2 linked regions of the Homo sapiens genome follow. The protein of the gene in region 2 interacts with the protein of the main gene of each other region in a pairwise test. Each region holds a gene or a part of one and is shown on either strand. Other genes may lie near its edges. The genes, in order: F2RL1 and SLC12A5.

The links.
Region 1: the proteins of SLC12A5 (region 2) and F2RL1 interact in a two-hybrid assay, tested with the Homo sapiens proteins (one large-scale study listed by BioGRID and IntAct).

What each region holds. Positions count from the first base shown.
Region 1 is NC_000005.10:76,817,566-76,822,015, reverse strand, and holds the start of F2RL1 (proteinase-activated receptor 2 preproprotein), read right to left. Parts: upstream 2,987-4,450; 5' UTR 2,834-2,986; coding exon 2,752-2,833; intron 1-2,751. UniProt on the Homo sapiens protein: Receptor for trypsin and trypsin-like enzymes coupled to G proteins.
Region 2 is NC_000020.11:46,042,467-46,046,273, reverse strand, and holds part of SLC12A5 (solute carrier family 12 member 5), read right to left. Parts: intron 3,122-3,807; coding exon 2,951-3,121; intron 2,642-2,950; coding exon 2,543-2,641; intron 2,399-2,542; coding exon 2,341-2,398; intron 1,309-2,340; coding exon 1,134-1,308; intron 397-1,133; coding exon 278-396; intron 1-277. UniProt on the Homo sapiens protein: Mediates electroneutral potassium-chloride cotransport in mature neurons and is required for neuronal Cl(-) homeostasis.

The sequences.
Region 1 (4,450 bases), on a different chromosome or scaffold from region 2:
AAGCCGAAATATTAGCGGTGGCTACTTTGGTACTGAAGTTCAGGGTGATTTAATTAAATGTTTCCTTTTTTTGTTTTGGCTCATTTTTCCCTCGAGTGATCACATATTGTTTTTATAATTTAAAAAACAATTATAGGTAGGGCGCAGTAGCTCATGCCTGTAATCCCAGCACTTTGGGAGGCTGAAGGTGGGTGGATCACCTGAGGTCAGGAGTTTGAGATCAGCCTGACCAATATGGTGAAACCCTGTCTCTACTAAAAATACAAAAATTAGCTGGGGGTGGTGGTGCGTGCCTGTCGTCCCAGCTACTCGGGAGGCTGCAGCAGGAGACTTCCTTGAGCCCGGGAGAGGTGGAGGTTGCAATGAGCCAAAATTGCACCACTGCACTCAAGCCTGGGCAACCGAATGAGAGTCAAAAAAAAAAAAAACCCAAAAAACCAAAAAAACAAAAAAAAACCACCAAACCAATTATAAAGAAAACAGAAGTTCCAGTCTCCAAAAGATAAATGGAATGACCTAGGCCTGTAACATGGTGGAAAAAAATAAGTAAGTGGCAGAGAGAAGCTGACTGAAATGAACACCACATGGACCAGCCAGGGTACTCTGGGCAAGACTCCTCACTTCATTCATTTGCTATTTACTGAGGTCCCGTAGGTGATGAGACTATGCTAGACGTGATGGAAAGGATGGTAGGGCCCCCTGCCTCCAGGAGTTAACGATGCAGTGAGGACACATATTAAGCATGTTTACCCAAATAATTATCAATTACTATTGTAAAGGGAAAGAGAAGCCCTGATTTCCAAGTGTTTTCCTTGCCTTGCCTCCTCAATTCAGTGTCCTTCACCTGTACCCTGAGAAGGTTGTGATCTCGGCTGAGTTCGTTTCTATGAGGCAGTCTTTTGGAGTGAGGCTTTGGGAAGAAAATCAAACCCCAAATCGGCCCTGCAGCCACCTGAGGGGCACGCAGAAGGACCGGCTAAAAAGCGAGTGAGCAAAGACCCACCCTGAGGGCAGAAAAGCTTTGCTAACACTGTATTTCTTATTAAAATCAATTTAGTTTTAAGGTGGGAGGAAAGCTCCATCTGCCTAAATCAATTGTCAGTGTTACTTCACTAACCCTTTGGGAAAGTTACTTTGCAAGGGAATAAAAGTATGGTGGGGGGAGGATGAGGAACAAGGTGCAATATTAAGTGGCTATAGTTAACAAGTAACCTGATTTTTCCTTATTGTTAAATCAAGTTCGCCTTATAATCCAGGGATCTCCCAATCCCCCAAGAGTAGTAAACAAGAACAAGACAAATAATCGGGGCATGCTTCCTACAGGGATCTCTGAATCATAAAGATGTTGAATCAGCTATACCAACATGTATTTTTTTAAAGTTTGCACATACTAACCTTTGCTCCTGAATTTTAAGTTTCCAACTTTAAAGGACATAGAGGAGAGGTGTCCATTACAGTTTTCAATACTTCCTGGAACTAAATGCCTTTATTCTGATGCTGATTAAGAAAAAAAAATATACCAGCGGTGCACAGTTTTCAAGCTTACACCATTAACACCCTTTTCCCTAACTGCAGAGGGAAAAGAATCACATTCTTCCATCTAATTCCAACCCACTGTGACTTGCTCTTTTACTTCGTCTTTATGAAGAGGAGGATAAAAGTGAGAAATGCGCATTTCTGAGGGAAATTAAAAGCTCCCTTTGCTACCCAGGCTGCCCCAAACAGAGGGGCCTCGGTTAGGATCACAGTGGCGCGATCGCAGGTCAAACATCCCCCACGGCCACAGCGAGGCCTGCTGGGCCCGGAAGAACACACTCCCAGCAATACAAGTTCGAGCACACCCGGAGCAGCACATCCAAGGAACGCGACGGCCGGGCGCAAGTGCTGCTCTGTTCCCAGGCCAGCCAGCCTCTGGCCTGCAGACCTGGGTGGCAGCCAGTGGCCGCTCCGGGTGGCACACTAGGAAAGTCCCGGAACCCCAGGCCCAGAGGGTCAACTGGTCAAATATAAGGCAGGGTCCAAAAAGTTCCGCTCGTAAATCCTCGTGGCGCCCAACGGGCCTGAGCGCTCATTACCACCAGAACCCATCAGGGACCGGCCCTGACTTTCATACCCCGGGCCTTCCACTGTGGGTGCCAGGAGCAGCGGGACCCGGGTGGGTCTCGAACGCAGGGGCCAGAACCCGAAGAAAGGCTTCCAGCAGTTGGAGAGGGACGCAAAAAACAACCTAGAAGGCTCCCGGGCCGCGGGTTCCCACCCACTCCGCCCTGCCCTGCGCAATCAGCTCGCTAACCCCACCGGCCCCGCGGGGCCAGCGGAGGAAGTCTCCGGAGTTGGCAAAAAGCTCTTAATGACTTAGTGTTTACAAAGCAACCAAGCCCGGGGAGGGGACTAGGTCCTCTGCGTACCCTTTAGACACAGCTACTCCTTCCTTCCCTCCCTTTCCCCGAACCCACGCTGGGGCCTGGAGGTGCCCAGCATGACAGCCTCTACGGGAAGTGGGGTCTTTGGGGAAATCTCTGCCTCTGCCCGGCTCCGCTGACTTCAGCTGCTCCCGCATGTCCCACCTGGGTGCCTCCTTGGCGCAGAGACCTCACATCAAAGCCACCAAGGGGAGGCTAAGGGATTCGTAGAGATGGGTGCCGGCAGCAGAACAGCCTTCGCACACCTGCCCGGATCCCACCGTCTGCCCAGCGTGCCCAGGACCCCAGCTCCTCAGAGATAAGAGCCCTCCTTGGCCAGGTTTCTCACCTTGGATGGTGCCACTGCAGGAGAGAGAGGCTGCTAGCAGGATGGCGGCCCCCAGCAGCCACGCCGCGCTGGGGCTCCGCATCCTCCTGGAAGCCCCGACGCCGGGCGCGCGGGGAATCCGCCGCCGCCGATTCGAAACTCAGAGCTCCACTGGACGCACCGAGAGAAAGTCAGCCTCTCACCTGCCCCGAATCGGAGCCTCTGCTGCGCGCCTCCCCAGGGCGGGTTAGGTTTCAGGGAAACCGAAGGAGCAGCGTACTCACCTGCGGGAGGCCACGCCCCGGGACCGGAACGCGCGCCCTGGTCCCGCCCCCGGCCCCCTTCCCTGCGCAGCTGCGCCCTCCGCTTCCCGGACTCGCGCCAGGTCCCTTAGACTGCGGGAGCCGCCTGCGGGCGGGGTTGAGCGCATGAGGTGTCTGCTTTGGAATGCAAATAGCAGGAGCGCTGGGACCACGGGTTAATCCCTGCCTAGGCTATACCGCGAACTACCTTTAATCTTTACTTACTCCTAGAGAAGCGGGTCGTCGGTCTCCCTTGCCTTTCCTGACTGTGGGAAAGCCACGATTCGTACTCACTGCAATTGTGGTTGGTAACTGATACAGACAGGGCTTCCCGGTGCGGTGGACCCTGCAGGAGGAGGGATGCGTTTTTTATTGTAGAGGCAGGTGGGCAACTGCGGACATCACGAAAGCGGTGGGGAGCACAAGAGGCGGGGCGGGAAAGAAGACATGGAATGGCTACTTTCAGCGCCAAGTGCCAAAGCTTTAGAGAATTATCTTGCTTAATCCCCATAACAACCAGCGCAATAAGTATGATTATTCTTCCCATTTTACAGACGAGGAAAGTGAGCTTAGAAAGACCAGATAAATTGGCCAGAGTTACACGACTTATAAACACAGTGTATAAATGTTTATCACATTTCAACTCCAGTATAAGACTATCACTGTCTTCTATTCATCGCTGCACTATAAATGCGTCCACCAGGGCTCCTCTGCATTGGGATCCCATAGGCTAAATAAATACAAAAGCAGATAGAAGGGGTGGGAGAAGAGAAGTGTGGGGTTGGGGATGAGTGCATGAGGGTTGGCATCATATTGGTAATGTCTTACTTTTTGTTTTTGAGACGGAGTCTCGCTCTGTCTCCCAGGCTGGAGTGCAGTGGCGTGATCTCGGCTCACTGCAAACTTTGTCTCCTGGGTTCAAGCAATTCTCTGGCCGCAGCCTCCCGAGTAGCTGGAGTTACAGGCGTGCACCACATCTGGCTAATTTTTGTATTTTTAGTAGAGGCGGGGTTTCACCATGTTGGTCTGGCTAGTCTCGAACTCCTGACCTCGTGATCAGCCCACCTCCGCCTCCCAAAGTGCTGCGATTACAGGCGTGAGCCACCGCACCCAGCATGTCTTACTTTTTATTTGCTTTTTAAAAGATTGAATAAAACAAAGTCTACTGTTACCCATTTAAACTATTGGTACCAGAAGAGCACAGAAGAGAGACATAGGTATTTTCAAATATTTAAAGGATTCGCTTGTAGAAGAGGATTTAGATGTGTTTTGAGTTGCTCCAGAGAGCAAAAATTGGTGGAAGCCACAGTGGGGTTTAATTTCAGCTCAATGTATAAAGAAATTTTCTTTATTTTTTATTTTAATTTCTATTAGAAAATAGAAGTGGGGTCTCCCTATCTTGTCCAGTCTGGTCTGGA
Region 2 (3,807 bases):
CATGGGCAGAGAAAGGGGGAAAGGGGACAGGAAGTCAGGAGGTGGCCAGATCATGCTGTGGTGCTTAGGAAGGGGTTTCAAGCCAAATACCCTCACAACACACCCTAATAACACGTGTGGATGAATCTCTCTATAACAAACGATGGGCTTCTATGACCAATGGGGAACTTCCTGGGGTTGCTAAAGTGTCTGGGTGGGTTGTCACAGGTAACGGCTGCAGGATTCAGATAGAGAAACACCCTGAACCAGGGGGGAGGGCAAGAAGTCAGGCACGCACATAGAGAGGATGGGGGCCACCTCGTCGAGGGATGCAATGAGGATGCCAATCTCGCAGATGCAGGCAGTCAGGAGCAGGGCCCAGGTCGGCTCTCCATTGGCCTTGCCATGGCCAAAGACCTGGGGAAAGAGCAATCATCATGGGACTGAGACCTCAAGGATTTCTCAGCCCTCTCCCCTAGCCTCGGGAACCAGTGGAGTAGAGGCAGGAATCCTATCACCAAAGAGGAGGAAGGGAGAGGATGCATTTCTCTTCCTCCAGGAGAATGCAAATGGATAACAGGCTTTCGCTGCATCTTGCCCACCCTGAGATCGGCACCCCAGTGCCATGAAGTTCAAATGATCCCTAGAGGGGGAAAGCAGCTGCAGAGGACCAGATGGGAGAGGAGCTGTCAGGAAGCCAGCAAGCCACCACGACCCTGTGCTCCATCCGTCTTTTTTTTTTAGCACCATGGTAAAAGCTACCCTTTTCTTGCCCTTTGACTGCCTCCCCAGGTCTCCGACCAACCACAGTGCCAAAACAGGGCCATTTATTTTTTCCCCAAGAGCAGACAGTGCTCCAAGGGATGCACTGACCATGGGCCAAATCCCAAGTAAGACACACTTATCCTTCCATCTGGGTGAAGGAGAAGCCACAGACAGGGCACCACCCAATGCCCTGCCCAACTCCTGACACCCCACACCACCCTGTCCCTGTGCCTCAGACCCTGCCAGATAGGCCTGGCCAGTGCAGTACAGAGCAGAAGTGGCCCAGGAGGTAGTCTAAGGCTGGTTATGGCCCTGGGTCACTGTGTGGTCTCTCTGGGCAGGGGCCTGGCTGGTCTACTGAGGGTGGGCTGTTCTTCTCCCACACTGACCTGCAGGAAGGGCACAATGCCATCCCTCGAGATGGCCTGCAGCAGGCGTGGGGCCCCCGTGAGGCTCTGCAGCCCAGCCCCACAGGTGGAGAAGAAGGATCCGATGACAATTACCCATGGAGATGGCCAGGCCAGAGTGCCCACCACGAGGTTGCCATTCACAGCTTCGCCAAACCTGGAATGATGTGGACAGGAGATGCCAGGTGAGCAGTGCTGCCTGGATTTCCAGGGCAGGTCTCCATACCAACTACAGAACCAACTGTGTGCCTGCCACAGGACTAAGTTCTGTAAGGGTGACAGGGGAGGCAGAGCCCCAAATGTTCCATTGTTTTTTCCTTGATAAAATAATTCTCTAATTTCCTGATACTGAAAACCAGGCCTCTAGGCCTGTCTCCAGCATAGGTCCCAGCCCCACGTCCCCCACTGCATTCCCTTACAGAAGCCTGGTGGTACCAGTGGAAAGTGATTCTGAGAGGACCTCCTACACCACCCGGCCAGTTGTGTGTGCTCATGCCCTTCAGACATGAGTGCTCCAGGACAGTGAGCACTCACAGCTGCAGGCATGCGCACACATTTCTCCCCTCCACCCTGGCTCCCCATTGCCTGGAATGCCCTTCCTCCAAGCTGCCTAATCTCTGCTCAGCCTTAAAAGCAGGAAGGATAAGTGAGATAAAGTGTATAAGACACTTCTAGCCTCCCCTCCTCTGAGAAGACTTCCCTGGGAAGATCCCTAAGGACTGGACTGAAGCCCCTGGGCTTTCCTGTATGGCCACCCCTACCGACTGCACTTAAAGTCTGTTGGCCAGTATAGACCCACCAAGAAGAGCTCCTTCAGTACAAAAACCATGTGTTATTTATCTGTGCTGCCTCCAGAATCTCGGAGGGAACACAGATAAATACCACTCCTGTCTGTGTGACCAACACATGGACATTCAGTAAATGTTAGACACACTATTGAATTAATCCATTTTAAAGAAAAGGAAAGTATCATTATCCTAAAGGAAATGAGACACCATCCAAGCTTCTCAAACTGGAGTGACAGAAGGAAGATGAAATATAAGAAGATGACTTTGCAAGCAATCCCCGTGGCCTCCCTCCCACAGGCCCCTCACACAGGTCCCAGCACCTCCTGATGGGTCTGTTTCCCAGAACTCAGCCTTCTATACCCACCCCTCCCCCAGAATAGGATCAACCCCAATTATCTTACTTGTCCCGCAGGACGACCCCCTCAATGCAGGCCCCAAACAGAACAACGGAGCTGATGTCTGCAGCAGAGGATAAAGGAGAATCCCCACGGTTCAGTCCTCCCCCTCCCCACCCTTCCTGCACCAGCAGGTAAGGCAGCAAGTTCAGCTGCCCTCCCTCTTGCCCTCCCCCGAGGGTGGTCCCAGCACAGCTGTGCAGGATACAGACAGCAGAGGTGGTGGCGATGGCCAGGATGGTGCCAGTGGGGATTGACTTCTGGGCATCCCTCAGGTCCCCAGAGCGGTTAGAACCAGCCATGATCCCTGCAAAACAGAAGTGCAGCTAGGACTCAAGCCAGGGCCACAGGAGACCAGACAGATGAGAAAAAAGGGCACCACCCTCAGGGTCAGTGAGTCTGGGATCTAGTCCTAACATACTGGCTTGTGTGAGACCTTGGACATGTTACTTAGCTTCTCCTGGCCTTAATTCCCTCATCTCTCCAATGGGAAGTGAAATGTTACGGTTGCTTTCATGATGGGGTTTTTGGACTAAGAAATTCCCAACATCATCATCGACTCTCTCTTCCCCATCCACTCACAGGCAGAGTCTTCCCTCTCTGAGCTCCCCTTCACCTGTGACTGAGGGGAAGTAGATGCCAACCAGCAGGGTGAAGTAGGAGGTCATATCACTGAAGACATAAGGGTGGTCCATGTCGATAGGAGTGCCATCGGCCAGGCCCACCGAGGTCATCCCACTCCTCTCCACAATCACGCCCTTGGTCAGGTAGGAGCTCCAGAGGTTCTCTGTGGGGAGACAGAATGCTCAGGGGGAGGCCAGCCATAAGGGGACCAGAGCTCTGGGACCAGGAGGTGGGAGGGGGCAAAAAGTCAGGGTCAAGATCAACCCCATCTCACTCTCCCCGGCCTTATCTCTATTTCATTTCCACTGACATTTCCTAAGCTCCTGATTTGGGCCAGGCTATGTACAGACCTTTCACAGACTAATCAGACCCAGTCACTACCATCAAACAGTCCAATCTAGTGGAGTAAATGAGCAAATAAAGACCCATCTCAGATTGAGTCGATGTGTCCCAAATTGATCTCACCCTCCACCCACCCCAAACCAGCTCCTTTCCTGCATCCCATATTTCAGTAAATGGCACCATCATCAATTCTGACACCCTGCCCTACACTGCTCCCTCTCCCCTTCCCCAACTTCAATACCACCTCCAACTTCTGTCCTTTAACCCCTCCTTAATATTTCTTAAATATGCCCCTTCTCTCCATTCCAAGGTCTCTCCACTGTGGCACTAGTGACACTCCCGGCCAGATAATTCTTTGCTGTGGAGGACTGTCCTATAGCATTGTAGGATGTTTAGCAGCATCGTGGCCTCTACCTACTAGATGCCAGGTACACCCCTCCAGTTTTGACAACCAAAAACGTCTGCAGACACAGCCAAATGTTTACTGGGTGGCAAAACAGCCCTGGT